Regions from separate parts of the Homo sapiens genome. Here region 1 is linked to region 2. Evidence: fine-mapped expression QTL. A gene starts in region 2. The other region holds a variant in brackets. All regions are shown on one strand. Distances are from middle to middle.

What was found.
Region 1: its variant is fine-mapped to the expression of BRD1 in whole blood (TOPMed, PIP above 0.99).

The regions. Positions count from the first base shown.
Region 1 is chr22:49,774,344-49,789,955 of GRCh38, forward strand. It overlaps BRD1 (bromodomain containing 1), which reads right to left. Exons shown (of 13, transcript NM_001304808.3): 8 at 13,047-13,544; 9 at 3,335-3,470; 10 at 2,691-2,818; 11 at 1,707-1,816; 12 at 1,248-1,402; 13 at 1-73. Among named protein-coding and RNA genes, the nearest start is that of BRD1, 46 kb to the right of the region's middle. The variant C/CA (reference allele first, on the strand shown) is at 7,633.
Region 2 is chr22:49,821,960-49,837,571 of GRCh38, forward strand. BRD1 (bromodomain containing 1) reads right to left here and starts at 5,914. Exons shown (of 13, transcript NM_001304808.3): 1 at 5,538-5,914; 2 at 992-2,372. The coding sequence starts at 2,358. LOC105377205 (a long non-coding RNA gene) reads right to left here. Exons shown (of 5, transcript NR_188597.1): 3 at 15,549-15,593; 4 at 15,333-15,435; 5 at 10,490-11,728. RefSeq lists enhancers at 2,590-3,169, 4,379-4,578 and silencers at 5,079-5,248, 5,979-6,048.

The sequences.
Region 1 (15,612 bases), 48 kb before region 2:
TTCCATCATCTTTAACTTGTCTATAGTTTCGTCAATACCAAGGGGAACCATTTTGGACTTAGGAAGCCACTGCCTTTTTAAAAGGAAAAACAAGCGGAAAATCATTGCTTGCACATGGTATTTCAGCAGGCTCCATGTAATCATCTAACAAATTCACTGCCCTCCGATAGAAAGGGGCCCTGCTCAGCACCACCAAGACAGCTGGGCCCCGTGCAGGGACAGGCCCGAGGCCAGGAGTGCACCCCTCCCTTCCCCTCCCCGACTTGGGGATACGGGGAGCTAAGTAAGGCATAAAAACCATCACCTCCTCCTCCACCTCCAAAACGTTTCCCAGTGCCTGCTTAGTGACAAGACATGCACACACCAAGCCCAGAGTCAGGGTGGGCCCTGGAGCAGAGGCCGGTGGTTGGGGAGACCCCATCAAAGGGGCCCTCGGATGGACAAGGTGTGGGCCTCGCTCAAGGCCTGACAAGAAGCAGTGGCCACGTGGCCAAAGAGGCAGAGGTCGAGGCAAGGAAGAGAAAGACGGTAGGGATGCCTGTGCTGCCAGTCCTGCTCCAGGCACACCATAGGCAGGTGGCCCCGAGCCCCTGCGCCAGGTCCCAAGTGCAGCCAGCTCCACGGGGAACCAGGAAGCACCTGCCCGGGCCACGTGCGCAGGGCACAGCCGGGGCCACAGCTCCTCCCAGAGGCATGTGCTGCCAGCGTGTCCTGCACAGAGGGATCTTGGGGTCTAAACCCTGGCACATGAGGGTCCCAGACGCTCTGGGGAAAAGCAGCTCAGGGCACAGGGGGAGCCTCCTGTGATGGGGTGGATGTCTGAGCAGAGCTGGATGATGCTGGGACAGAAGGCTCTAAGAACAGGGCCAGAGGCCAGGCCCGGGCAGGGGCCATGTCCTGCAGTACAGGGGTCCGGGAGCACAGCAGAGGGACCCCCAACACTGGAGCGGACACATGGGTAAGGAGTAGGGAAGAGACAGTCCAGACCAATGGGGCTCAGGCGAGAGGGAGAGGAAGCCATCGGGCAGAGACAGACCCGGTGCTCAGTGCCCGTCCCACAGTCCCGGCGAGGGGGCTGGGCAGTGCCCTTCTCCACCAGGCAAACAGCGGAGCACTCACCTCCGACTTTAGCTGTGCCAGGGCCCAGCAGACAAAGACGCTGCTCACCACAGGGACACTCAGGTCACCGAGCCCACGGCCCCCAACCACCCCAGCCGGTCCCCGGAGTCTAAGGCCTCTCAACTCACCAACTTCTCTTATTATCAAAAAAGAGAACGAGGAACAGCTTCTCATCAGACTTGGTCTGCATGTGCTCCCCAATCTTCAGCACGTCCAGGGGTGGGGCCGGGATGGTGACGCCGTTGTGGTGGCCAGGCACACGGGGCATCTTGGGGTCGATGATCTGCACGAGAAGGACCCGCTGAGGTCATTGTGAGGCTCACACCCATAAACAACCCCACCTGTCACTGGCACCCCCCCCCGCCTCCCCACCCCAGCTGTGTGAGCCTCCTCAGACCACCCCCACGCCCCCCTCGCCGAACCACCCCTGCCCCTTCCAGCTGTGTGAACCTCCTCTGACCAACCCCGCCCCCCCGCCAGCTGTGGAACCTCCTTGGACCACCGCCGTGAGCCTCCTCGGACCACCCCCGCCCCGCAGCTGTGTGAGCCTCCTCTGGACCCGCAGGCGCCACGAGAGCCGTACTCACCAGTGCCGGGTAGGAGGGGTAGCCGCTGCACTTGGCCCACACCACCTTCAGAGGCTCCAGCACCGAGGCGGCGGCATCAGTGGAGATCCACATGCTGCTCTGGCCGACTTCTGCGGAGAGGGGCGTCAGCAGGACACAGGCGTCAGCAGGACACGGGGCACGCCCCGCCCCCCCACAAAAGGTGCAGCAACAGGGTGGGTCCCCCGAGCACAGCCCAGCTCCCAGGCCTTTCTCAGCCACCCCGGCAGCACCACTGCCTCCCCTGTGGGGTCCAGGCCCTTGCATCCCCACTGTCCCTGCAGCCCACCTGGGGCCACCAGCCTCCCACGGACCCAGGGAAGCTCCTGCCCTCCAGGCTACAAGGCTCCAACTCCAGGTGCCCAGCACAGTCCCTTCTGAGCCCTCCTTGCCGCAAGGACGGGGCTCCCAGCATGCTCCTGCCTCATTTACACAACTGACACCCCAAATGGGAAACCAAAGTCCTGGCTCCCCCTCCGCCAGACCAGCTCCCTGCTGTCCCTCCCACCTGGGGGATCTCCGTCCTGATGCCCCCTCACAGCATGGCTGCCTTCCACAGTGAGGGCTGTGCGACCCCAAACCCTGGGGCCTCCCCCTCCCCCAGGGGCCTGAAGTTGAGGGCACCCACCCTGCAGTCAGTCCCCTGTGCAGCTGCAAATGACCACTGAACCTAAACAACCCCAGACAGCCTTGACAGTGCCTGGCAACCAGCAGCCACACAGAGCTGGACGTTCCACAGGGAAACGAAGGCAGGATGGAGGAGGCGCCACCTCCGCAGGCACCCCGGCAGGGCCACAGCCCAGAGCCCCTCGGTGTGTGATGAACCCTTCCCCGGGAGGTTGGCCAGGGTGGGGCTCCACACAGGGCACCATGCTCCCTGAGCCGGAGTCCAGTCCCCAGCAGTCGAGCCCTAAGACGCTAACCAGGAGGTGTGGAGAGCCATGGAGGCAGGTCCGGGCGACTCACCGGCTGCGATCCTGGCCGCCTTGGCGTAGTTCCCATTCTCGATGCAGGAGATCAGCTCACTGCGGTCCTCCAGCGTGTGCCGTCGCACAAGAGCCGGTTTGCCCCGCCCACATTTGGGCGCATTAAAGCTTCGGGAGGAAGAGCAGAGGGAGTCAGGCGCCCCGCCCCTGCCTTCAGCCTCACTCGGGCTTCGTCCCGTGAGCTGTCCGCCACCAAGCTGGCCACGCATCCTGCCTGACACCCCCGCGGCCAGACGGGCCTGTGGGTGCGCAGGTCTGGAGGGAGTGAACCTGTGGCAGGGGGGACTCAGGAGGCCAAAGTGGCCTTCACAGGGCAGACAGGCAGGGCTGTGCTCATTGCCAGATTCTGGGAGGTAAAGATCAAGTGTAAAACTTCATTGCAGATTCTAAAATTGTGTTCCTATTTCACGCAGTGTTTTTCCTACTTCTGCTTGAATTCTATAAAGCAGATTAATATGCAGCATGGGAAACTGTCCACAAGGGCAGAGCACACATGAATCCCAGGCCAGAATTTTTCAGAGAACACTAAGATGGGAGCTGGAATGTCCCGGCTTCCAGGACAGCCAGGCGGGGCGGGCGGTGCTGGGAGCTGCGTGGTGGGAAGCGCAGGGCCGCGGTGCCCACCTCGAGTCGCAGAGCGGGCTGTTGCTGGAGGAGATGCTGGACTCGGAGGCACAGCGTCGTCGGGGTGTGGCCTTCCTCCCCAGGCCGCCGCCCGGCTCCTGCTCGCTCCTCGCACCCCCAAAGCCGTTGGTGAGACCTGGAACACAGGCGGGCAGGCCCTGAGCTCAGCACAACCAGGGCACACTGAAGCATGACTCAACGACGTTACACTTGGAACACATCTTACAAAGCACGTTTCACAGACAGGTAAGACAGCATCTTCCTTTTCACTCCCAAGTTCCCGAGCATAGTCCTTACAGTAAGCAGACACCAAAGTTACTCGTTAAATGAAATCAACTTAACAAACTGCAGTCGGCTCCGATCGTAGTAGTTTGCTGAGCACCATGAAGATGCTCCTCTTGACAAGCCCGGGTCTTTAGACAGGCTCTGTGAAGGCAAAGAAAGGATGCCGTGAGCCTGCCATGGGGGCAGATGTGCAACCTGTGAGTGCAAACACGGGGGCGGCCTGTCCACGTGGGCACCGGCCGCGTTTGAACGGAAACTTCACCAGGCCGAAGGGGCCACCAAAGACACAAAAACATGTTCACAGGAGCAGAGCTCCAGGGAATAGGAAATCAGGTTTTAAAAAGAAAAAACCTTGGTTCAAAAGACAAGTGTTAACATGAAGTCAAAAATGCTGACGAAACACTTTAAAACACAAAATCCGGGGCCATCGCCGTGTCTGAGTGTGTCTGGCCTCACTCACCATGAAGCTGCAAGTACTGTACACAGCTAAACAAAACACCACTCACAATTCCATCATCTCAATGTTTAAAAAATAAGGCAAATCTCAGTATTTTCCCCCTAAAAATCCTGACTTTGTCAGTCAACGGGAAACAACACATCTGCCCAAGGCCCCCCGATGAGGTCCCCCATGGGAGTCACAACGGGGGGATGATGTTCCTGCTGGGGGCCCTCTGGGTGTCAGAGCTAAAGGGGTGTGTGATTTTTTTTTTCTTTTTTGAGGCGGAGTCTCACTCTGTCGCCCAGGCTGGAGTGCAGTGGCACGATCTTGGCTCACTGCAAGCTCCACCTCCCGGGTTCACGCCATTCTCCTGCCTCAGCCTCCCGAGTAGCTGGGACTACAGGCGCCCGCCACCATGCCTGGCTAATTTTTTGTATTTTTAGTAGAGACGGAGTTTCACCGTGTTAGCCAGGATGGTCTCAATCTCCTGACCTCGTGATCCGCCTGCCTCGGCCTCCCAAAGTGCTGGGATTACAGGCATGAGCCATGACACCCGGCCATGTGAATTTTTTTATCCAAAAAGAACCCCGTTTTCCTGCCTACCTACCTCATCCTTAAAAAATTTTTAAATCTATTTCCAAAGGAAATTATGTAAATTTGTAAATAGAGCATTTCTGTAGAATTTTTTTGGAAACGATGTCTCACTCTGTCACCAAGGATGGAGTGCAATGGACTCCATGGCTCACTGCAACCTTGACCTCCTGGGCTCAAGTGATCCTCCTGCCTCAGCCTCCTGAGTGGCTGGGAGGCATGTTTTGAAGGGAATGGCTGGACTGCGGGATTTTCCACCCGCTTCGTACGCTTCCCGTCTGTTCTCAATGAGCACGACCGACTTTTCAATACAGGGGCTGAATCAGCCTCCACCCGCTTCATACACTTGCTGTCTGTTCTCAATGAGCATGACTGACTGAAACAGAGGGGCTAAATCAAGCTCAGAAGGGAATGCACAGATTGGGCGGGTGCACTGCTGCCCTCCACAGACTCAAGTCAGACACCGGCTCCGTCTCTCCTGGACTGGAATGTACCGTGACCTCCAAGGGAAGCTCTGTGTTTCTCATTTTAACCTCGGTCATTTTAAGGCAGGAACTGTGGCCAGTTGGGGGTGTCATACTCATTTCTGGCAAGGGAACAAATAAATTTAAAAACCTACAGGAGAAGGCCTTGAGCCACACGCTGAGCTGCCCTGGGGCTCCACATGCTCCCCATACTCATCACAGAGTGGGCTCAGACCCTGCACACTCAGGCCCCGAAGATGTCTCAAGAGGGAATTAAAAGTCCCGTCCTGGCCCCCGAGAACCCCTCAGGAGCAGCGACTCCATCCCTACTCCAACCTGAGTGGGTGAAGGCAAGGGAAGCCCACCCAGCTCGCATCAGCAGTGGACGGACGGAGCCCAGCACCCCTGCCAGCATTCAGCCCACAGGCCCGGAGAGGGGTCTGCCAACGCGTGTGACCCGTCTCCAGAGAGCAGCCACGAGCCTGGCGACCCACACCCCACAGCCCGGCCCCCAGCACACTCCAGACCCCAGGTGCAGGGTGAGCCTGCTCCAGGCTGAACAGACGCAGCCCAGGGCCTGGGTGGGGAGGCTTTTAGTAGTTACTGGTTGGCCGAGCAACGGCCACTTGGGGGAAGACGATGACCAGTGCGGCCTTCACAAGACTGCCCAGAGGTGCCAGCCTGAGGGCCCTAGCACGAGATCACCCGCAGCTGTGCCAGCACCAACACAGCCAAGCCATGCACAGACCACTCAGCAGCCACGACGGCCCCGGCTCCGTGTGCATGGAGTGGGGCCAGGAAGGGGATTAAAACACAAGGCAAGTCCTTAATTCTCAGAAAGAGGAGAATGATAAAATGCCCCTCTTAATTTTCCTAAGCATTCAGTGAGTGCGCGTATGACGCAAGAACACACAGAGGTTCTGCGTGTCACCCATGAAAATGTGACAGCACCCGGGAAGACGTGGGCAGCACAGACAAACCCAGCCCAACCGAGACACCACCCAGCAGGAGGCCTGGCGGGGGTGGGACAGCTGCAAGGCTTGCTAACAGGCGGTCTGGGGGCTGCGGCAGTGCGGGGTCACCCAGGAAGCCAAGAAGCCAGACCAGGACACAGACACATCCCGGGAGGCTCTGCAGCCACCGCCTGGAGTCCCCAGAACCTCGGGGGAGCTGCAAGGTGGCCTGCGCTGCCCGGACCCTCCCAGCCTCCACCTGGACCACCAGAAAATAATCTAAGACAGCTATGGTTCTGAGATCTCTCAATCTCGGCCCTGCCAACTCCCGCCCTGGGAGGCTCTTCCAGCCAGCTGGGAGATGTCCACCATGACCCGCACCTCAGCACCCCTGCAAGGACCTCAGCCCAGAACATTCTGAAGCCCAGGCCAGCCTTGAGGTGGGGCCCAACGTGGGGAACCCAGGGCCTAAGGTCTGCAGAGATGGGTGCCCGGTCCATGAGGCATTTGCAAACAGCAGGCACTGAGGCCGAGCCCAAGCCTCTAAATCATGTAAATAGCAAGGGGCAACTTTCAGCAACTTTTTCAGCACGAGGTTTTTTTTTAACGCTGAAAGTAAAGCTGGTGACTGTGAGAAATACGTTAAAAGAGGCGGCGGCTGCCAGGAAAGAGCCGCTGCCCCATCAACACAGGAGCTGCACGGAATTCCCACAGCGGCCAGGGTCCACCCACCCTCAAGGGCCTTCCCAGTGACCTCCTAGGAGGCCAAAGACTGAACACAGAAATGTCCCTCTCTGCCCCCAAAGGAGATGGCGCAAAGGTGTCCCACAGCCCAGCCAAGCGCAGTCCCCGGAAGCCTGCCCGTCACCAGGTACGTCCACAGCACACCTGAAACTGTCCCGGGAGGTCCCCAAAGGGTCTTCTGAGAGACTGAAGGCCACAGCGGCTGAGACACCGCCCCTCCCCACAGGGAAGAGAAGCCCCAGGGCCCACCTGGGGAGGCGGAGGCCTGCAGGTCTGACTGATGGGCCGTAGTCTCCTCTGGTCTCAGGCTCCCAGCCCCCAACCCATGTGGACACCACAAATCCTCCAGGCCACAGGTGTAAGAACACCAGGCCCTGATCAGTGGCTGCCGAGACACCTGAGGGCACGGAGCCATGGGAACGCAACCCCACAACACGGGATACAAGCCCGCCCCTGCCCGCCCCTGCCGCTGGCACCCAAGCTGCCACCTCGGCTTCTCCGGCTCATGGGAAGCTTGGCCGTATGAAGCAGGTGGGCTGAGCCTGCACCCTGAAGACCAGAGCCCTGAGGGCCCCACGCAGTGACAAAGGAGAGCCCACTATCTCCTGTTTTCAGTTTCACTTTTACCATCGTTAAAAGAAGAGCAGTTTTGGTGCATTTTTCAACCTCTCAACAAAAACACACACGGAAGAAGATTCCAACAGCACCCTGCTCTTGCTGGGACCTGCTCCGTGACAATGCAGCCGGGGACGGTCAGAGACCGACCCAAGGCCCATGTTGCTGGGACCTGCTCCGTGACAATGCAGCCGGGACGGTCCGAGA[C/CA]AGACCCAAGGCCCAGGCCAGATGCCTGCACAAGACTTGCTCCGTGACAATGCAGCCGGGGACGGTCAGAGACAGACCCAAGGCCTATGTTGCTGGGACCCGCTCCGTGACAATGCAGCTGGGACGGTCAGAGACAGACCCAAGGCCCAGGCCAGACGCCTGCACGAGACCTGCTCTTGCTGGGACCTGCTCCGTGACAATGCAGCCGGGGACGGTCAGAGACAGACCCAAGGCCCATGTTGCTGGGACCCGCTCCGTGACAATGCAGCTGGGATGGTCAGAGACAGAACCAAGGCCCAGGCCAGACGCCTGCACGAGACCTGCTCTTGCTGGGACCTGCTCCGTGACAATGCAGCCGGGGATGGTCAGAAACAGACCCAAGGCCCATCTTGCTGGGACCCACTCCGCGACAATGCAGCTGGGATGGTCAGAGACAGACCCAAGGCCCAGGCCAGATGCCTGCACAAGACTTGCTCTGTGACAATGCCGCTGGGGACAGTCAGAGACAGACCCAAGGCCCATCTTGCTGGGACCTGCTCCATGACAATGCAGCTGGGACGGTCAGAGACAGACCCAAGGCCCATCGTGCTGGGACTCGCTCCGTGACAATGCAGCTGGGATGGTCAGAGACAGAACCAAGGCCCAGGCCAGACGCCTGCACGAGACCTGCTCTTGCTGGGACCCACTCCGCGACAATGCAGCTGGGATGGTCAGAGACAGACCCAAGGCCCAGGCCAGATGCCTGCACAAGACTTGCTCTGTGACAATGCCGCTGGGGACAGTCAGAGACAGACCCAAAGCCCATCTTGCTGGGACCTGCTCCATGACAATGCAGCTGGGACGGTCAGAGACAGACCCAAGGCCCATCGTGCTGGGACCCGCTCCGCGACAATGCAGCTGGGATGGTCAGAGACAGACCCAAGGCCCAGGCCAGATGCCTGCACAAGACTTGCTCTGTGACAATGCCGCTGGGGACAGTCAGAGACAGACCCAAAGCCCATCTTGCTGGGACCTGCTCCATGACAATGCAGCTGGGACGGTCAGAGACAGACCCAAGGCCCATCGTGCTGGGACTCGCTCCGTGACAATGCAGCTGGGATGGTCAGAGACAGAACCAAGGCCCAGGCCAGACGCCTGCACGAGACCTGCTCTTGCTGGGACCCAGCTCCATGACAATGCAGCTGGGATGGTCAGAGACAGACCCAAGGCCCAGGACAGACGCCTGCACAAGATCCCACGCACAGATGCCCCACCCCACGAGCAGGACTTCTCAGTTGGCCGCAGGGGCACTCAGCGTGGTGACCAGCAAGAGACAAACAGCAGCACTGCTCAAGAATCCACTGGGCATTGTGGGGAAAAAACAGAGGAAGGGGAAGTAAGGGGAGAAGGAAATCAGGTAGAAAACCCAGAAATACAGAAGATGCTAGCGAGTGAGTGAGCACGCACTGTCCATGCCACATCCTCAGACAGTGCCGAGCCAAGTTCCTCCATACCCCATGGCACAGACACAGCACAACGCGCCTGGGCATGGCCGTCACACCCAAACCACCAGTCACTATGGGACGGCTCCGCACATGCTCAGGACAGCCTCAGAATGCTGTCCACTGTGTCGTCAGCTGCAGCAGGCTCCCAGTCGGTGCCGGGCTCTCCTCTGCGTCCTTCGTGACTGTCCAGAGGGAAGGCTGAGGTGCCACGACATCCCGCCAGCTCCAGGCGTGCACCGGGCGCCAGCACCATTCCCACTGCCGGGCTCTGACTTACAGAGGGGGTGGGCTGGGGTGGGGGAGAGCTCCTCCAGGGCTGCTGTTTGTGATTTTGTCTAGAGGATGTTTGAGCTGATGATTCCAATGTGATCCGCAAGAATTAAGTGAAAGGCAAGATGCAGTGATCTTTGTGCATTCCAAAACGGCCGCTTAGCAGAACTCCAGTCCAAGTTGAGGTAAGAGAAAATGATTAGGGTCCAAAGAGTGAACTACCCAGCACATTAGTGGTTAAAGTGAGAACCTGGAAAACAGTGAAAAAGCCATTTAGTCTGAATGAAAGGGCAGGACAGCTCAGCCTCCTCCCTGAACAGCCGAAGGACACTGAAGACACCCCCGCGCTCTCACGCCCCAGCACGTGCACATGGAGACTCGCAACAGGGGTCTCCGCAACGGCAGCGAGTGGACAAAGACATCCCCACACTCTCAAGCCCCAGCACATGCACACAGAGACTCGCAGCAGGGGTCTCCGCAACGGCGGTGAGTGGACAAAGACACCCCCGCGCTCTCACGCCCCAGCACGTGCACAGGGAGACTCGCGGCAGGGGTCTCCGCAACGGCGGCGAGTAGACAAAGACACCCCCACGCTCTCACACGCCCCAGCACGTGCACACAGAGACTCGCAGCAGGGGTCTCCGCAACGGCGGCGAGTGGAAGGCCGCTTCAGGTGACGGTTCACTGCTGGTGAGCGTGCAGTCACGGAGGAAGGAAGCCACGAGTCAGGGCCAGACTCTGGGGCTGGGCCATCGCAGGAACAGAAGCCTGGCGCACAGCACAGCCGGCCCGCGGGCGACACGGGCAGGAGGCCCACAGTGAGTGCGTCGCCTCAGGACCAGCGACCCTGTTCAGCCTAACTCAGAATTGTGCGTGTGCTGGAAAATGCCAGATAACTCCCTAAAGTTCAGAGCACACAGATGCATGTATGGAAAACATCAGAAGGTTCCGGATAATTCCTGTCCTAAGACTGCGAAGAACTGCAGCTCTGGGCAAGAAATCCCCCATGTGCAGAGCACCAGAAGGTTCCGGTGAAACCAAAGCGAGGGCGGATGGCGGGACTGGCACCATTCAGAGCACGCCCAGCCCTTCCCCGGGCGCCTCGGCCACAGCAGTGGAATGCCTCCCACTCCCGAGGGCCTGGTCTTAATGCTGCTGAGGCTCCCGGCTGCTCAGGAGAGAGCTCAGGAACTCACCGCACCTCCACGGAAATCCACTGTCACTCGGAAATGAGAGAGCAGAAATCTCCACTTCAGTCAGGATCAGAGGGCACCATGATTCTCAAAAGCCACCATGGGCCACGCTCACTGAAGGTCTGCAGTAAGACTGCTCTACACCACCGTCACCACGGGAAGCCCGCAAAACACTCCACTCCAATGTAAGACAGTGGCCCGGAGGGGACACGTGCTCTTCTACAAGGGACATCTGATGAACGAGCCTGAGAGGTTGCTGAGGACGTGGCCGCCAGCCGGCAAAACTGTCCACAGTGGGAGCCCACAGCTGGGGCAGGGCCCGGTCAGGTGGGGCCACCTGGTGGAAACCACCACGTGAGCATCCTGCTGAGTGTCGACGGGAGGCCGCCTCAAACCCCAGCCCCACGGCCGGCAGGGCCTCCACGCACGCAGCCCCATACCTCTGCCGCCGACAGACGTGAAACCCCGAGGAAGTGGAGCGTCAGCCGAACTCCAAGTTCTGCATGCAGAGGGGACGCCCACAATTACACTGACCCAACCTCTAGTACCCAGTGCACAGCACCCTGACCCGATTCATCACAGAATTTCCGGGGTGCTTGGAAAACCAGGTCAGAGTCTTTCACCAAAGGTGGCTAAGAAAGACCAACGTGGTTAAGACACATCCCCCAGTCCTGAGTCAAGGACATCTATTCTTATTGGTATCTTGTGAAACATTTCAATAGCTTCCTATTACTTAGAAAGCAAAAAAGCTTTTTCAAATTATTTTAAAATGCCAATTTAACATCAATCCATCAAAGTAAAAGGACATGGGTAGAAAATTTCTACACATTCAGTTACGTGCAAAATTTTCATACAAATCAAAATGAAATTTACCAGAAATTACTTTGGCAACAAGACGCATGACCTGCTTGCTGGCAAGGGTAGGAAGTGAGCCTCCTTCTGCACAAAGACCTTTGACAGTGCCTGGTCTCACTCCCCTCCCCGGACGCTTCAGGCCAGAGACCAGCAGAAGGAACAGGGACAAGATGTGAGGGAGTGGCCTGGGCAGGTCTTGCCCACCACAGCCTTCCATCTGCACCCGGCCTGGTGAGGCTCCATGACACAGGACTCACTTGCTGCCACTCTGGGAAATAAGCAACACCCACCCAGCCCCACCCTCTCTCACTGCTCAAGTGCACGAGGCACCACGGCACACCAGCACAGCCAGGAGAAAATGCGCATCTCCTTATCTAGGTATAACAGGCAGACAGGACAGACGGGAACCAAGCCTTGACTCGGGACAAAAACCAAAATGACAAACATGCTCCAGACACGCTTCCAGAAAAGAGTCGCTGGCAACCTGAGCCGGCACCTCCAGAAGCGCAGCCAGTACCGAAGAAGCAAACCGATGACAGCTGCTCCTCTTTAAAGGACAAACTCCTCAGCTTCCTCTGAGGGGCGGGGAGCAGAGGCTGCAGGAACACAGCGGCCTCCTCAAAGTGCTCCCAGCACAGCACACACACGGCAACACCCTCACCGAGGAATTCAACAGAGTTCAGTTACAAAAGCGCAGCAAGAGATGAGAAGCGCTTTCCAGTGCTATTTCAGCAGGTCCTAATACCTCATCACATATGTGGCTAAGAGGGCCACATAAAACAATGAGTAAATGTTGCTGAAATCAACTGCAAAGTACTGCATTTACCACAGGGGCAGGTCCTCTCAGAGGTCCAGGGAAGGGCCAGGCTCAACCCCAGGTCCTAGGTCTGTGGGGCTGCAAGGAGACCTGACTGAGGGTTGCAGAGTCGAGCTCCCACAAGTGCTGGGAGCGGCCAGTCACCAGCTTATCCAGATGTGCACAGCAAAGTCAAGATGACCAATTAAAACTACACCTGAATTCATTCTCAGTACTTTTTTAAAGATCAGAAGGGGCCAGGTGCAGCGGCTCACACATCTAATCCCAACACTTTGGGAGTCAGAGGCCAGGAGTTCAAGACCAGCCGGGACAACACAGCGAGACCCCCATCTCTACCAAAAATTTTCAAATTAGCTGGGAGTGGTGGTGTGCACCTGTAGTCCCAGCTACACAAGAGGCTGAGGCAGGAGGATCACCTGAGCCCAGGAGTTGGAGGCTGCAGTGAGCCACTCACTCCAGCCTGGGTGACAAAGCAAGACTCTCTTAAAAAAAAATCAGAGAGGAAGTATGTGGCAGAAGACAGGACCAAGGACCATCGACCCCTGGCCCAGGGCAGCCCAGCAAGGTTGCACAATCTCTCGTGGCAAACAGGCCCCCCACGAAGGCGCCGGCCTCAGACCCGCAACTCAAGGCTTTTCAAAGAAAACACTGCACTGTTGTCTTCTCTGGAAATTAAGAGAATGCTGCAAAAACAGAAGCTGGACACCCCCCCCCCCCCGTCACACCAATGATCCTGAAGGACGCTCCAGGCACTGGTCGGCAAGGGCGCCTCTCAGGGCCGCCCGCGGCATTTACCTGCGTCCAGGCGCTTTCCTGGGGACTCCTCCTCCACCTCGGAGTCTCCGCATGTGCTCCGCGACCTTTTCCTTGGCTGCAGAAGAGTCTCCAACCTCGGAAGGACTACAGACAAAAAGGTTTTGGTCCCTAGCTGAGGAGAAGTTGGCTGGGTTTCAGTGTTCTTGGCAGACTTTGGGGGGCTTACACTTTTCGATTTGCAGAAGAGAACAGAAGTGCGTCTGTTTACATCGCTTGCTGGCTCCGCCACCGCGGAGGCCGCCGCCGCCGGCACATCGCCACTACTGGCGCGGGTGGGCTCTGGAGGGCGTCCGCTTACCAGTGCGCTCTGAGTGCAAGCGCTATGTGATTCATTATCAAATGTGACTCTTTTGAAAAGTTTACTCTGCTCTGGGTTGAGTTCTACTGGTTTGAGGGTTGGTGGTTCTGAATTAGTCTCCGAGTTTGAAGGAAGAGGTAATGCATCTGATGGTTCAAGTTTAGGGGGAGATTTATCTCCTGAAAAAATTATAAATAAAGTGATTTTTGAAAACTGAAGATTATAAAATCTATTATAAAACTTACTATAAATGTGAAGTCCACCAAAATACTAATTCAGTTAAGGAAACAAGGCATCGCATGTACTGTCTGCTCGGCAGTGTGGGCCCCGTGGGCTCGGGCCACACTGTGTGTGCTTCCCTAACGCCAAAGGCTGCGGCCCTGGGTGCAGTGCCCAGGCACACAGTTACTCTCTGAAAAAAACTGTGAAAGATTATTTCACATGCGCCAATATTAAACACGTCACTCGAGTTCATGACAGTTTCTGCAATGAATAATTCACTTACCTTGAGGAAGAAAAGGTATCTCACATAACTAAAGGGGCCTTAAACGGGCATTCCCACAGAGCTCTACTGGGCCACGAAGTTAGCAAATAAAAGGAAGGCAACATTAAATCTGATCTCTGGTCAAGGTCTTAAGTCAAAAATGCAAAAACAAACAAACAAACAAAAAAAACAGGGAGTGGTGAGTGGCTGTGGATGATTTTCAAGAAAGGCAGGGAAAAAAGCCCCGCTCCCCACAGCACAGAAGTCCGTGCCACGTTCCCAAATATTGTGATGGGAGCTTTCAGGAAAAAAAAATCTGACTTTTAAAAATAAGAAGTCTTTGGAAAAAGACGGCTTTAACCTCTTTTTAAAGTCTTTTTGACATTATAAAAACCGGAAGTGTGAAATGGTAAAAAGCCCGAGGTCAGGAGGACGGCCTGGGGCTGGTCTGTGGGGCTCTGTGCACTGTCCCGAGTCCAGGGGGCCGGACAGGCTCTGGCACGAGGCTAACAGGGCGAGGCGACGCCACAACAAGCCAAGCCCAGCCACTGAGGCTTCCTTCCAAGCAGGACCGGTACTGACAACAGGAAGTGTGACATAAAACCAAGGATTTTGTGATTATTTAAAGTGACATAAAACACTTTAAATAATCCTTAGTATATATTATCACTGGGTACAGTTTTCATTTCATTAAACCTGCAAACTTTCCTAAAACCGTTTGAAGTATGTATGGTTACTATTGTCATTCAAAAAGTTGTTTTGAAAATACAAAACTACACAACTTAACAGGACTCAGAGCAATGTTTTGAGGCTGAAGAAAGTTCTCCCAAGGCTGGGCCATGACGCCGGGCAGCAGTGCTTTCGGCTGCGAGGTGCCTCTGATTTTAAATGACACTCGGCGCCTTAGAGCACCTCACAGCCAATTCAAATACAAGGGGGAAGCCTCACCTCAACAAAAAGCCTCCCGTGTCAGCCGCAGGGAGCACAGCTGTCATGTGGGAATGCTGGATCCCAAGGCAGGGGCACATGCGAGGTGACAAAACTCCCTCCCTCCTGTTCAATGTCGCCAACAGGCTTAAGGAAAAGGTGTTTGTGAAACACCTGGGAACACTGGCCGGAGGGAACTGGGCAATGCGGAGAAGGGCTGCTGAAAGGCTGCTCATGAGCATCCCTGGTGCCTGTACAGCAGCAGGAGGGGATTCAGCACTGAGCCTGCAGCGTCCTGACGCAGCTGGTGTCTGGGGCACAGGGCCTGGGGCCTCACTTCACTTCCTGCCTCCTCTTCCACCTCCTAGCCTCCCCCCCCCGCCCCGAGCTCTCGCCCTGATTACGACATTCAACTGCTCACTGCAATCCCAATGGCCTCTGCAGGGCCAAGGCCAGTGGTCAACCCCAGTCTTGGCCTCTATGGGTGCAACAGCACCCGGCCAGCAGAGATGGAGCCTGAAGGAGTCTCCTCCCAGCACCTCCGGGAGACCCCCCTTCCCCCAACCACCTACAGCCCACCTTCTCCACAGCTATCTAACGGGCACCGTAAACCCCCATCTCCTGCTTCTGGTGCAACCCTCAGAACCACCACTCCTGTCTGGCAGGAGCCCTGAGACGTGCAGACGTCCCTGCCTTGCAGCAGGCCCTCCCCAACCATGGTCCACAACCCCTCCTCCACACCTCCAGCTCTCGGCCCAGCTAGGATGCCCCATGTGGGACTCATAACCATCTCCACGCTGCAGGGACTTCCCTAACCCCTGGTCTATCCCAAAGCG
Region 2 (15,612 bases):
GCAGCAAGTGGGGGGCACAGCACGGGAAACGGGGCCAAGGCCACAGCAGTGGATGTCCCGATGCCGGCAGTCACTGGGAAGCCCAGGCCAGAGCCCCTCGGGTTGAAAGTCATACAGAGTTCCTGCGTGGGCTTCATTCCTTCTTAAAGTTTAGTCACTGAAATTCTTAAAAATCTTCACGCACGGCTGGGCATGGTGGCTCACGCCTATAGTCCTAGCACTTTGGGATGCAGAGGCAGGCAGACTGCCTGAGCTCAGGAGTTCCAGACCACCCTGGGCAACATGGTGAAACCCCGCCTCTACTAAAAATACAAAATTAGCTGGGCATGGGAGCACACGCCTGTAGTCCCAGCTACTCAGGAGGCTGAGACACAAGAATTGCTGGAACCTGGCAGCAGAGGTTGCAGAGAGCTGAAATCGTGCCACTACACTCCAGCCTGGGCAACAGAGCAAAACCCTATTTAAAAAAAAAAAAGGCTGAGCAAGTGCTGTAATTCCAGCACTTTGGGAAGCCAAGGCGGGCAGATCACTTGAGGTCAGGCGTTTGAGACCAGCCTAGCCAACATGGTGAAACCCCGTCTCTACTTAAAAAATACAAAAATTTGTCGGGCATGGTGGCGCACGCCTGCAGTCCCAGCTACTCAGGAGTCTGAGGCAGGAGAATTGCTTGAACCCAGGAGGCGGGGGTTGCAGTGAGCTGAGATTGCGCCACTATACTCCAGCCTGGGCGACAGAGTAAAACTCCGTCTCCAAAAAAAAAAACATAGAAAACTACAGATTATTCCAAGCCTACAGACTAAAATCTTTTACAACATCTATTCCCCAAAAAGACGTGGTAAACAAGCAGAACCACACTTCAGGGGAATATTAGGAAGCTGCGCCAACTAGAAACGCAATGACCACACAGCACGGGCCCTGCAGGCTGTGCCCACGTCCTCCCAGGGTCCCACACTGCAGGCTCCTTGTGGACTCAATGCTTGGACACGCTTACCTCTGCGGGGGAATATAAGGAGCGCACACGGTCGGCAGGACCGCGCAGGGCTCAGCCAGAGCTTTCTTAGCCTTTTTTGCCTTCTTCCTGACCTTGGATGTGGACCTGACCGTTTTAACCGAGCTCTCTTTTCGACAGACGCCATTTTTCATTTCGACATCCCCGTAAATATTCAGAGGCCTCCGGGTGCAGCCTGGAGGCGTGTGGACATCACAGTAAGCGGTCTTTCTGACGGAGAAGGTGGTGCCACCGCCAGTCAGTTCCTTCACGGGCTCCATTTTCATGTACAGGCCAGCCTTCTGGGCACACGTCACATGGAATGCTGTGTAGCAGTTTGCTTTGTGGCACTGGATGCAGGCACCCACGCCCTTCTGCTTACAGAGGTAGCATGTCAGTTTCCACCGGGCTGGAGGGATGTTCCTCACCCCATCGATGGGCTCGATGAACACCGTGTTGGCAAAGCCGACCTCTGGGATCCACAGGGCACACACCACGTGACCCCAGCGGTCGTCATCTGTCTTTTTGAAGGCACCACCCTTGTTGGGGCACAGCACACAGTCGGCGGGCCGGGCCCGCGACTGCAGGCAGTGGCGGCAGAGCCACTGGCCCTCGGGGATGTAGGGCACCCCGTAGCACTCCTGGTGCACGGCCAGGTTGCACATGTCGCAGAAGAGGATCACGTTGCTGTTCTGACACTCCCCGTCCATGCAGATGCAGCACACGGCGTCCTCGTCGATCAGAGACTGCTGCTCGCCCTGCTTCTGGTTCTCGCAGTGCGACTCCTTCTCGAAGCGGTCCATCAGGAACTCAAACATGCTCTGCGACACGGCGGGGACGCAGTCGCCCTTGCGCTTCTCATTGACGATCTCCAGCCAGGCATAGTCCTCCTCGTCCATGTCATACTCCACCTCGTTGTCCAGTTCCTCGGCCGACTTCTCGATGAACTTGTAGTACACAGGAGGCCTCCTGGGGGCGGACGGAGGGCTGTACTCCACGATGCGCACCTTGGGCTCCGGGAGGGCACTGGCCGAGGCCGGCGTGCCGTGGGCGCTGGGGAGGGCCTCGTTTTTCTTTTTGACTCTGTTGTTTTTGTGACGCTTAGTTCTTAAGCAGACAGGAGGCCGCTCGCTGTTTTCCTTGTTGCTGTTGCACTCACTCATCTCTTGAGCAGTGAGGTCATCTTCCAATATGATCTCCAGGGGATCAAAAATACTGATCCTGTGCAAGCGCCCTTCAATTTCTATCTCTACCATCCTTTGAGCTTGAGCGTAGGTCAGCGTTTCTCGCGTAGGGGAGTGTTTAACACTGCATGGGGAAGAAGGATGCCTCGCTGCAGAGCCTCGATGACATCGTCCTTTCCTCCTCATTTGGTAATGATTACCTAAAATGAAGGCAAAAGTAAAGGTAATTCTACGCAGGGTGACCAAAGACTCGAGAAAACCACAAAAGCATGCTTGGACAGATCTAGCTCAGCAGCTCAAAGCCCAATCAAAGCAAAACTCACAGCTAACCTCTTTCCAAGGTGTCCAAAACCACACATCCAGGCCTGAGCGAGTCCCCAGGACCAGGGAGGGAGCAGCAGTAACAGGCAGAGAGGCAGCCTGAGGAGCCCTCCTGAGCACCTGCGTCCCTACCACCACACACCAGTCCCCTCTCAGACCACACCAACAGGCTGCGGAGACCACAGCAACGCTCCCCAAGGAGGAGGGGTCCGGCCCAGAGCCCACAGTTGCAGGACTTTCCCAGCATGCAGGCGGTCCCCCAGGAAGTCCACATACAGGGCTGGACCCCACCAGGCACAGAGGCTATGCCCACCAGACAGGCATGCTCAGTGGCTACCTGGTCCTATCGGATGCTCCCCCTAAACCACTCTTCCCCTCCCCACTACTCCCAGGAGAGCACTCCCATGAGCCCAGAGTCACCACAGTCCTTGCAGCATTCCTGCTGGGGCCAGGGGTAGGAGACAGATCACAGCCTGTCCATCCTCTATAGACAGGCCCTCCACACGCACAACACGGCACAGGGGACCAACAGGGGAGCCCTGTACTGGTCTGAGGGGACAGTCTTGGCCCCTGGGAGGCCCCAACCCCGCTTCTGCAGAGCCTTGGCAGTGACCACCATGGAAACCACCACAGGCTGAGCCAACCTGCCCCTTCCCCTCAGGGGCACTCCTCAAGCCCCACTGAGACCATGGTGCTGGCCACGTCCTCCTCCTTCCACGTCCTCCTCCTTTCTGAGAGAATCCAGACACATGCATGACGCCAAAGGGAATCTCTGTTCTCCCCGGCACACGTGAAGGCAGACGCTCCACTCAGGCTCCACAGCGAGGGGTGACCCCCAGGAACCCCTCGCTGCTTGCAGAGACCCTCACCAGGAGGGTCGCCAGCGCTGGCTCAGGTGCCTGAAGACTTGGCCACAGAGGCTTAGGAGAATCTGCTTTTCCAGAGGTAGGCAAAACCAGTGAGCTGCCTCCCATACCTCCAGCTCCTCGTGGCAGAGGCCTCTGCTGTCCCAACACCACGGACTGCGTCTATTCCTAGCTGTCCCCAGGGTGCCTGGTGTGTGGACACCTCCTGTGAAGACCACCGCCTGCTGGGCAGTGCCTCCCTCCAAAGCGCCACACTTCACTGACAGGAAGCAAAATGATTTTTCAGTGACTGACTCGCAAAACAAATATTCTCAGCTGAAGCCCAAGGCATACTCTGCATCTAGCCCTGCCACGTCAGGGACGCCTGGCCTCGGGGCCCAGGGGGATCAGGGGCACCCACAGCAGCCTTACCCTGATCTATTGGGCCTGAGAAAAAGCCCTCAGGGAGCAGGCTTCCCTCTGTGAGTCCCGAAAGGAAATCCCAGCAGACTTCAAGAGCACTTCTTAAGACAGACCCTCCAGACACTGGGTATCTTTCTCTGTATCAGACAGAAATCCTCATTGTATGTTGAAACTAGATTGCAATTACCTACAGAAAGGAATAGGAGAGAAAATGTGGTCGGCCAAACCTCAGACCCCCTGCATCTCCAGGGCCTCCAGGTACCCACTCAACCCTGGATTCCTGGGGAGCTGTCAGCACAGCCACCCCCCAGCCGGCCCCGTGAGCCCTGCAGAGGTGACACCACAGCCTGCAGAGAGCGACCCTAGTGCACCCGGGACGCCGACACGCGTCATTACTGAGGTGGGGCAGAAGCAACAGTTGGTTACTCACCAGATCAGAAACGAACCTGTCATTTTCCCCTCGACAGCAAAGTCCTGAGTCGCCCTAACGACAAGCAGCCCCTGGAAACCCACTCTCTCCCAGGGAGCCGTGAAGCTCTTCATCGCAACACTTTCTACAAGGGGAGAACTGAACCGAAGGCTTCACGGCCACAGCAGCTCCATACCCTCAACATGCAACTGGGACCCGGGGAAAGTAGGCCCTCAGCAGGGCAGGGCGACCCACGACCTCCTCTGCTTCACCGCTTCCCCCCTGGGCCGGTTCTGTCCCTGGCCCTTCCACTGGGACAAGCATTTCCACTGGGAGGGATCCGCGGGGGCACACACGTAGCTTCTCAAGGAATAATTCCCTTAAGTACATCGAAGAGCCCTGCGGGCCACAGGCGGGGAAGGCTGCCCACAAGACGGCCGCTTCCATCTTCCCACCGCCCGCCCAGGGAGAAGCCGGCCACGCGCCGGGCCTCTCGGTCAAGGCCACAGGGGCCGCGGCCGCTGAGCTGTGCGAAGTTGTGTGCAGCACACAGCACTCGGGACGGCGCTGGGCCGGCCAAACAAAAACATCCGCCGATTCCACTAACTACACAACCACCTGGCGACAGACCCTCAAAAACAGACACGGGCGGCCGCGCTTTCTGGGGAGACGGGGCCGCACCCCGCGGGGCAGGGGGTCCCGCTGCTACGGATTCTCAGAACTCCCGCGTCCGCTCACAAGAGCCGCGTTTCCCGTGAACTGCGCCTCAATCGTGTCACTCGTTTTAAAAGGCCCGGGGAAGCCTCGCGTTCGTCGCGAGGCGTCTCCCTGCAAACGCCCGGGGAGGCCGCGGTGCCGGTTCCCAAGCCCGGCCGCCGCAGGCCGCGCGGCTCCTGGGCGATCTCGGGGCGCGTCCCTGCTCACAGGGAGTTCCCGTCTTGGCAGAGCTCGGCGGGCCTGTCTGTTACATAAGGGGCGGCCCGGCCGGCTCGGCGGCTGCCCGAGGCCCGACCCGACTCGAGCGCGGACTCCGGGCAGGCGCCCGCGGCCCAGGCCGCCGAGACCCACAGCCCGACTCGGCCTCCCTCGACTCCCCGGCCTGACCTACCCGGTCTCCCCGCCCGGCCTCCCCGTCTTCCCGCCCGTCTCCCCGGCCGCCCGGCCCGACCTCCCCGGTCTCCCCGCCCGGCCTCCCCGGCATCCCGGGCTCCCGGCCCGCAGACAATGCGGAGCCGCCGCCGCCGCCGCCGCCGCCAAACATGGCGTCGGCACCACAACCCCGAGAGGCCGGGCCGAGGCGGCGGCGGCGGCCGGGCGGCCCGCGAGGCGGCGGGGAGGCCTCCCCGGCCAGGCCCCCGCCCACTCACCTTCGGGGCGCCGCGGCCGCGGGAGCCCGGCAAGCGGGCGGGCGCGGGGGCCGGCGCGGCCGAGGCGGTGCTAATGGCGCCCGCGGCTCCTCCGCCAACGGCCGCGCAGGCCGGGCCCCGCCGCCGCTCCTGGGCGCGGGCCCCTCTCGGCCGCGGCGGCTCCGGGCCCGGCAGCGGCGGCCGCGGACTCTCGGGCAGCGGCTCGCGCGGCGCGGGCTCGGGCTCGGGGCCCAGCTGGAGGCCCGGCTCGGGGGGCCCGGCCGGCGGGCGCGGGCGCGGGCGCGGGAGCGGGCGGCGGGCGGCGGGCGCGGGACGCGGGGCTGGCTCGGACTCCAGGGCCGGGTCGCTCGCTCGCTCCCCAGCGAAGCAAACAATGCGGCGAGCGCTCCGCCCGGCGCGCTGCGTGCGAGACGCGCCCCGCCCGCCGCCGCCATGACGCGCGGACTCCGCTGCCTCGGCCGCGCGCGGGGGAGGGGGCGCCGCGAGGAGCGGGGGCCAAAGGGGGCCCTGAGGCGGCGGGGACCGGGCTGGGAGTGGGGGGTCGGGAGGATGGAGAGTGGGGGCCCTTGAGTTAGGGAGGACCGGGCCAGAAGGTCCCTGAGGGGGTCAGGAGGATGGAGAATGAGGGGCCCTGAGGCAGGGGGACGTAGGCCTAGGAGTGGGGGGCCCCGAGGCAGGTGGGGAGCAGCCGGGAGTCGGGGGCTTTGAAGCAGGGGGGTACCGGCTGGGAGTGGGGGTCCCTGAGGCAGAAGGGCATTGGCCCAGGAGTGGGGTCGCTGAGGCAGGAGATGGCCCAGGAGTGGGCGGCTCTGAGGCAGGGGCTACCACCGGCCTGGAGTGGGGGGCCCACAGGCGGGGGGACGGGCCGGGAGTGGGGGTACCTGAGGCAGAAGGACATTGGCCCGGGAGTGGGGGGCCCCGAGGCAGGATGGGGGAGCAGCCGCCAGTCGGGGGCCCTGACGGGGGAACGGCCAGGAGTGGGGGTCCCTGAGGCGGGGGGGACCAGCTGAGAGTGGGAGTCCCTGAGGCAGAAGGCCATTGGCCCAGGAATGGGGGGCCCTGAGGCAGGGGGCGATTGGCCCACGAGTTGGTGGGGGCCTGAGGCAGGGGGCGATTGGCCCACGAGTGGGGGGAGGCCTGAGGCAGGGGGCGATTGGCCCATGAGTGGGGGGCCCTGAGGCAGGAGGCTATTGGTCCGGGAGTGGAGGTCCCTAAGAGGACAGAGGGGGCCCTGCGGGGGCACTGGGTGGGAGTGGAAAGGGCACTGGCCGGGACACGCGACTAGGTAGAGGTGGGTGGTGCAGCCGGGCTGGGGAGCCTCCCCTAGTGAGTGTCAGGCCCGGTGTGCAAGTAGTCCTGCCAGTGTGAGGGCCCTGCCGAGGCCGGCGTGAAGCAGATGCCCTTTAAGGTTGCAAGAAAAGGCCCCTGCGGGTGGGAGTTGAGAGGCCTGAGTCTCTGCCTTCACTTTGGCCTTTTGTGTAAACTCTAAAATTCAGTGGGGTCATAACAATTTTCACTCCAAGATTAAATCCCAAATGTTTTAAGGTGAGGCAGGAGCTCCTTGGTTTCCTTGAGAATTTGTGATCAGGACGATGGTGCTGTGGAATCCCTGGGTTCCAGCAGCACAGCCTGTGGCATCCAGGCAGGCCCCTCAGGAAGAGCAGCTGTCCACCCTGGGACAGACCGTCCCCACGGGGGCAGCCGAGCGGCCCCACTGCTCGGGGCACTGCACCAAACACCTTATTGGGAGTGGGGTGGCCTTGTTCGCCCAAGTGTCCCTGATAGGGGCCAGGCCCCACAGGCCTTTTCCTGGCCAGTCCTCATGCCCATGGCACCCAGTGTGTGGGTTGTGACGTGACGACTCAAGGGCAGGTAGGACCCCAGCCAAGGCCCCAGTGGTCAGTCCTGATCTAGGACTCCCTGCAGACACACCCTTGAGCTTAGGGGGTACAGGCCACTGGGGCCCTGACCTCTTCTGCACCAGACCCAGGAGCTTCGTGTCACCTCCATTCTACAGATGTCTGTTTACCTGTGGCCAAACAAGCAAGCTGAGCCCGAACGCTTCTCTCCTCCACCTCAGGGAAGCCAGATGGAAACCAAGCTGGAGGTTCTCCACAACACAGAGCAAAAGTAAGACACAGTCTCATGAAAGAGAAGATGAAAAGACACGAAACCCTTCACAGAAGAGGAGACGGGGACAGTGGCCTCTCAGACAATGCAGGTGATGCTCAGAGGAGTGAAGAACAAAGCCTCGAACGTAGGCATGTCACAGGGATACTCAGGAAGGCCTTCGGAGAGGATCTTCTTTAGAATTCAGACTCATCCTACAGAGGAGGGGTTGCCAAAATACTAAGAGAATTGAACCGTAACTCATACACAGTGAAACTAGCGTTCCAGTGAGACAGCAAAATAAAGGTGTCTTCACCGCCGGTTAACATCCACATTTACCACACACGCAGTCTGTAAAAGTACTAGAAGAAATACCTTAACAAAGTGAAAAGTGGACCCAAGAGTAAGACGTGGATGCCAGCAAGTAAATCAGTCTGGTCCGTTAAAAGAAAATCAACCTGAGAGAAATCCCGGATGAACTCAACATGACACATGGTAAGGCGGGGCGCAGAAGGAAGTGAAAGTGCACGAAAGCTCTTGTATTGTTTGGTTCGAGGATTTTAGAATCGATAGAAAAAAAGGTTAAAAATTTTAGCTGGGCATGGTGGCTCACACCTGTAATCCCAGCACTTTGGGAGGCCGAGGCGGGCAGACTACCTGAGGTCGGGAGTTCAAGACCAGCCTGATCAACATGGAGAAACCCCATCTCTACTAAAAATACAAAAAAAAAAAAATTAGCCGGGCGTGGCGGCGCATGCCTGTAATCCCACTACTTGGGAGGCTGAGGCAGGAGAATTGGTTGAAACTGGGAGGTGGAGGTTACAGTGAGCTGAGATGGTGCCATTGCACTCCAGCCTGGGCAACAAGAGCAAAACTCCATCTCAAAAAAACAAAAAAAAAAAGTTTTAACTATCAGAAAGTTTCCACAAGAATGGTGGAAAAAGAATTTACCACTTTCAGAACAGCTGAGGAAAAAGCGAAATGAAAAACGACAGCAGCAACAACAAAAAAAAAACAGGAATGAGTAAAAGATAAAATCATGATAAATACAGAACATAATATGAGTTGGCAGAACTAAGTTCAAACATTTGAGTAATCAGAGGAATGTGATTGGATTAAATGCATCTATTAAAAGACAACCTCTCTGAATGGAATATAAATATGGTGAAATATTCTTACAAGAAATTCACCTGAAAAATAACAGATGAAAAATAAAACGATGGGGCCAGGCACAGTGGCTCATGCCTGTAATCCCAACACTTTGGGAGACCGAGGCAGGTGCATCACCTGAGGTCAGGAGTTCAAGACCTGACCAACATAGTGAAACCCCATCTCTACTAAAAATAGAAAAATTAGCCAGGCATGGGGGCACGTGCCTGTAATCCCAGCTACTCAGGAGGCTGAGGCAGGAGAATCACTTGAACCCAGGAGGCTGAGGTTGCAGTGAGGCAAGATTGCCCCACTGCACTCCAGCCTGAGTGACAGAGCAAGACTCCATTTCGTAAATGAAAGGATGGAAATTATCATATGTTTGTTCCTCAAAAGGCACCATAAAGAGACTGAAGAATGAAAAACTAAAAGATATGTACACCTTGCAGATGATTAGTATTTAGAATATATAGAGAACCCCTTCAGATCCATTAGAAAGAGACAAACAAGCCAACAAAATGATGCACAAAACCCAAATCAACAAAGAAACCCATGTCATAATCAGGCTTCTTGCAGAGAACATGGAAAGGCCAATCATCTTACTAGTAAATTTGGAAATGCAAACAAAATACACACCAAATAGGCACCAGCGTTCATATGTGGCAATACTCAGCGATGGCAAGATGGCAGAGCAATACCCTGCTGGCCAGAATGTCGAGTGGGACAATTATTTGGTAAATATCTTGGTCATAAGGCGTTACCCAGTGAAAGTGGACATGTTTATCAGTTACCTCTTGCTGCAAAACAAACCACCCCCAAAACTTTGTAGCTCAAAACAGCAGTCATTCCTTTTGTTCACACATCTGCTATTTGGGCAGGATTCAGCAGGTACAACTAGACTACTTCCTGCATCCTTATCTGGGGCACCTCCACTAGGGGCTGGAGGAGCCACTTCCAAGATGGTGCACTCACGTGGCTGGGACCTTGATCCAGGCTCTGGGCTGAGGGCCTTGGGAACATCCTCATGGAATAGTAGCCATGCTGCAGGAGCAAGGGTCTCAAGAGAAGCAGGTGGGACCTGTATCACTTTTCACATCCTAGCTTCTGAAGTCACACGCATCACTTCTGCCATAGGGACAAGCCTGTCCAGATTCAAGAGTTAGGGAGAATACAGACCCCACCTCTTGGGACATGTGTTATCATCACATTTTAAGAGAAGCATGCTGTATGGGAGAAGTTGTTGTGGCCACTTTGAGAAGATGCAAGCTCCCCCAGTGTGCATACCCATTCCCGGCTGTAGGGTTAAGTCAATTTGTATTCCTAGGTGCATTCCGTGCCTGGGTGTGTGCCTAAGAAACCTGTTCATCAGGGCCGGGCGCCGTGGCTCACGCCTGTAATCCCAGCAGTTTGGGAGGCTGAGGCAGGCAGATCATGAGGTCAGGAGATTGAGACCATCCTGGCTAACACGGTGAAACCCCATCTCTACTAAAAATACAAAAAATTAGCCAGGAGGCTGAGGCAGGAGAATGGTGTGAACCCAGGAGGCAGAGTTTGCAGTGAGCAGAGATTGCGCCACTGCACTCCAGCCTGGGCAACAGAGCAAGACTCCATCTAAAAAAAAAAAAAAAAAAAGAAAAGAAAAAAAGAAACTTGTTCATCAGGAAGCATGTGCATGAATGTTCAGAGCAACACTGTTTTTGGTGTTTTTTTTTTTTTATTTTAACGCTGTTTTTAATAGCAAATACTGGGAGAAATCTTAAATATCAAAGGACGGTAAAATGGACAAAGTGAGGTGTATCCACGCAATGGAATAGCACACAGCAACAGAAATGAATGAATTCCACCACCAACACGGCCAAATCTCAAACACATAATTTTAAATGGAAGAAAGAAATCTCAAAAGATTACAGAATATGATTCCATTTACACTCAGCAGACAGAGCTAGGAAATAAGTATGTACAAACACACACACACACACACACACACACACACACACACACACACACACACCCATATCTTTTCTGATACCTCTTAGCAAACCTTGAGTTCATACTGATACCTGTACCTCCAGTTACAATCTAGCATGGAGTTGATTCTACCCTCCTCTGTTTCTACATAACTATCTATGCCTTCACTTAGTAGCTCAGTCCCCCGCTACATAACCATCTCTAGGCTATACAGGACAGAAACTTGGCCCCAGACACAACCACTGCCCCCCATTTTGCACCAGCCAAAAATGCGGTTCTGGGGGCATCACTGCTCTCCAGAATGGTTATATCTGCAGGCTGAAAGCACAGCCCAAGAAAAGGCAAGGAGGAGGATGCTCATGTTGTTTCTGATATTCTGTTTCTGGCAGGAATAAGACAAAACCCTTCTTCTTTGATCTATCTCACCTTTAATTTATTTAATTTTTATTTTTACCCGGTATCTGCAACAATCTACTTTAGGAGACTATCCTTTCACAAACATTAAAACGTTCTTTAAATGGTGTTTTTCTCACTTCAGAATTCAGGAAAAATAGTTTTACTGACATTTACTTTTAATAAAAACGTAGTAATTTGCATTGTTGCAGTAGAAATTTGTCCTCCTTGTCACCAGGATATAATCAGACAAATTAATAGTGGAGCCCAGGCCTTACATGGGTGTCATATTTGAGAATAACTTTCCTGTGCTTCCACAACACGCCCACCTTTAAGGAACAAGGGTTGTGGCTTGTGTGCTGAACCAATGCCCACACAACCCTCAGACCCATACTGGCCGGGCACCTGTACTCTGGCACACAAAGCCTCAGCCTCACAAGTAGTAAGAAGGATACTTCCTGGCAGGCCAAGAGCCATGGCAGACACTGGAACCTTCTGGAAGATAGAAACTTGCACACACACAGGTCCCGCGGGCACACCTGAGGGAGGTGGATTTGGTTCGGCTTCCTGGCCTAGGAACAGAAGAGCAAATAAGAGAAATTAAAAAACAAAAAATCTCAGGTGTGATGTAGGCTCAGTCCTACATTCCTTATGATGACACGTCCAGACAGAAGTTGATTTTCCGGCTTGGTCATTGCATAACGCCATCTGGTTTACATGTGTCACCTAACAAGGACACTCGTGCGTGGTAATTACCACTTCTTGCAGCACCTGTGTAGATGAATTAGGTCAGAATGCAAGACTAGCTTTCTGTGGTCAAGAATAACCTTCGGAGATTATTTATCATCCCAAGAGGGAGCTAATAAAAATGTCCCAGATTAAGGATTAGACACCCCAAAATGAGTGTGTCCATTCAGTGGCAGGCTATGTTCCTGAGCAAGCCTGCCAGGCAGATTTTCGGATCCTCTGGAGTGTGCGCCTGCTTAACTTGCTATATACTATTGATTACGATATTTTACAACTCAGCAAGGGTAGACTTTAATTTGTTGAAGATAGATGGCTAAGTAAAATTATTCCTCTCTGACAGCAATGCAAATAAATTTTGCCCAGTAGTGAGTGATAGAAATTATTTCTGTCCAGTGGAAAAGATTACAGTAAAAAAGGTTGCAGTTTGACTGGGCGCAGTGGCTCACGCCTGTAATCCCAGCACTTTGGGAGGCCAAGGTGGGAGGATCACCTGAGGTCAGGAGTTCGAGACCAGCCTGGCCAACATGGTGAACCCTTGTCTCTACTAAAAATACAAAAATCAGCCGGGCGTGGTGGTGGGCGCCTGTAATCCCAGCTACTCAGGAGGCTGAGGCAGGAGAATTGCTTGAACCTGGGAGGCGGAGGTTGCAGTGAGCTGAGATCAAGCTATTGCACTCCAGCCCGGGCGACAGAACAAGACTCCATCTCAAAAAAAAAAGAAAAGAAAAAAAGAAAAGGTTGCGGTTTATGGCCCTGTAGAACATTAACCAGTTTTTTTAAAAATCTAAATAAGCAGAATTACTCAAACTTTTTTAAGTCACTACAAATACTTCCTTCTCTCCAATCTTTTGAACCAGCCTCACCATCATGCTGGTTTCCTCATTAATGATTAAAATAAATCTTTGACACGTCTTCACTTTAGAGTTGTATGAGTCATGTTTTTAACTTTTTTTTTTTTTAAGACGGAGTCTCGCTCTGTCACCCAGGCTGGAGTGCAGTGGCGCGATCTCAGCTCACAGCAAACTCCACCTCCCAGGTTCATGCCATTCTCCTGCCTCAGCCTCCCAAGTAGCTGGGACTACAGGCACCCACCACCACGCCCGGCTAATTTTTTTTTTTTTTTTTGTATTTTTAGTAGAGAAGGGGTTTCACCATGTTAGCCAGGATGGTCTCGATCTCCTGACCTCGTGATCCGCCCACCTCGGCCTGCCAAAGTGCTGGGATTACACGCGTGAGCCACCGCGCCTGGCCCTGTTTCTAACTTTTTAAAAAGTATGCTTTGACAGCTCCAACATCTAGCTGCCTTCTCAGCCTCTCCTCCAGGATGTCCTGTAGGCATCTCGAACTCAACGTATCTGGCACTCAGCTTTTGGTCTTCATCCCCAAACTTCTCTGCTGTCTCCTTCCTCGGTTATGGGTTGAATTGTGTCCCCCCTGCAAAAGGTATGGTGAAGTCCTAAGCACAGTACCTGGGAATATGAGCTAATTTGGAAATAGGGTCTTTGCAGATATAAAGTTAGGATGAGGCCAGGTGCAGTGGCTCACGCCTGTAATCCCAGCACTTTGGGAGGCTGAGGCGGGCGGATCACCTGAGGTCAGGAGTTTGAGACCAGCCTGACCAACGTGGTGAAACCCCGACTCTACTAAAAATACAAAAATTAGCTGGGCATGGTGGCGCATGCCTGTAGTCCTAGCTACTCACAAGGCTGAGGCAGGGGTATCACTTGAACCTGGGAGGCGGAGGTTGCAATGAGCAGAGATTGCGCCACTGCACTCCAGCCTGGGCAATAGAGTAAGACTCCATCTCAAAAAATAAATAAATAAATAAGAATAAATAATAGGCCGGGTGTAGTGGCAAAAAATAAATAAATAAATAAGAATAAATAATAGGCCGGGTGTAGTGGCTCAAGCCTGTAATCCCAGCACTTTGGGAGGCCAAGGCAGGCAGATCACGAGGTCAGCAGATGGAGACCATCCTGGCTAACACGGTGAAAACCTGTCTGTACTAAAAATACACAAATATAGCCAGGCGTGGTGATGGGTGCCTGTAGTCCCAGATACTTGGGAGGCTTAGGCAGGAGAATGGCGTGAACCCAGGAGGTGGAGCTTGCAGTGAGCTGAGATCGTGCCACTGCACTCCAGCCTGGGCGACAGAGCAAGACTCCATCTCAAAAAAAAAAACAACAAAAAAGACATAAGAAAAAAAAGAATAAATAATAATAATAATAATAATTAAGTTAGGATGAGGTCATTGAGTTGGGCCCTAATCTAATGACTGGTATCCCTTTCTAAATTACACAATCTGCTAACCTTCTCTGTATCATTCCAATTTTAGTGTATGTGCTGCTGAAGCAAGCACCTGGTATTCTTATAAGAAGAGAAATTGGGACACAGACACACAGAGCAAAGACAGCTATGTGACAATGGAGACAGAGCAGAGTAATGTGGCCACAAGCCAAGGAATGCAAAGTATTGACGGCCACCAGAAGCCGAAAGAGGCAGGAAAGACCCCTCTTTATGGGTTTCAGAGGGAACACAGTCCTGCTGATGCCTGGACTTCGGGCTTCCGACCTCCAGAGCTGTGGGAGAGTGAGTTGCTGCCATTCTCAGCCCCCCAGGCTGTGGCGCTTTGTCATAGCAGCCATAGGACATGAATCCACTTTCTCAGCTAAGGCAACTCCGGGCTTCCTAGGTGAGAGGCACTCCTGCACTGCTCATGTCTGACCCGCTGGCAAAGCCTGTCGGCTCCCCTTTCAAAATAAGTCCAGAGCCAGCCCTGTGTCACCGCCTCCTCTGTTCCCTCAACACCTCTCACCTGGATTATCCCAGTAGCCTGACCCACCTCTCTGCTTCACCCTTGTACCCCTCTGCCTCTTCCTCTCTACAGCAGCCCAAGTGACAGCATCTCCTGCGTTTAACACCTTCCACTGGCTTCCCATCTCCCTGGGAATAAAAGCCACAGTCCTCAACTCCACAACAAAAAACACAGAACCTGATTTTTTTTTTTTTTTGAGACGGAGTCTCACTCTGTCGCCCAGGCTGGAGTGCTGCGGCGCGATCTTGGCTCACTGCAACCTCTGCCTCCTGGCTTCAAGTGTTTCTCCTGCCTCAGCCTCCCAAGTAGCTGGGATTACAGGCGCACACCATCACGCCTGGCTAATTTCTGTATTTTTAGTAGAGACGGGGTTTCGCCATGTTGGCCAGGCTGATCTCGAACCTCTGACCTCAGATGATCCGCCCGTCTCGGCCTCCCAAAGTGCTAGTATTACAGGTGTGAGCCACTGCGCTCAGCTAGAACCTGATTTTAAAATGGACAAAGGACTTGAATAGACAACTACAAATAGCCAATAAGCACATCGAAAGATGATCATCATTAGCTCTCAGGGAACTGCCAATCAAAACCACAATGACATCCTACTGCACACCCACCTGGAGAGCTAGACCCAAAAAGTCAGGTAGTGAGTGTTGACGAGGATGTGGAGACACTGGAACTCTCTCATGCTGCTGGTGGGACCGTCAAATGGTGCACCTGCTTTAGAAAACGGTCGGGCAATGCTTCAAAATGCTGAACACAGAGCGTCCATAGGTCCCAGCAAGTCCACTCTGAGGCATATCCCCAAGAAATGAAAATATGTGTCCACATACACACTTGTATGTGAAGACTCATCGCAGTGGTATTTCTCATAATAGCTGAAAAGTGAAAACAGGT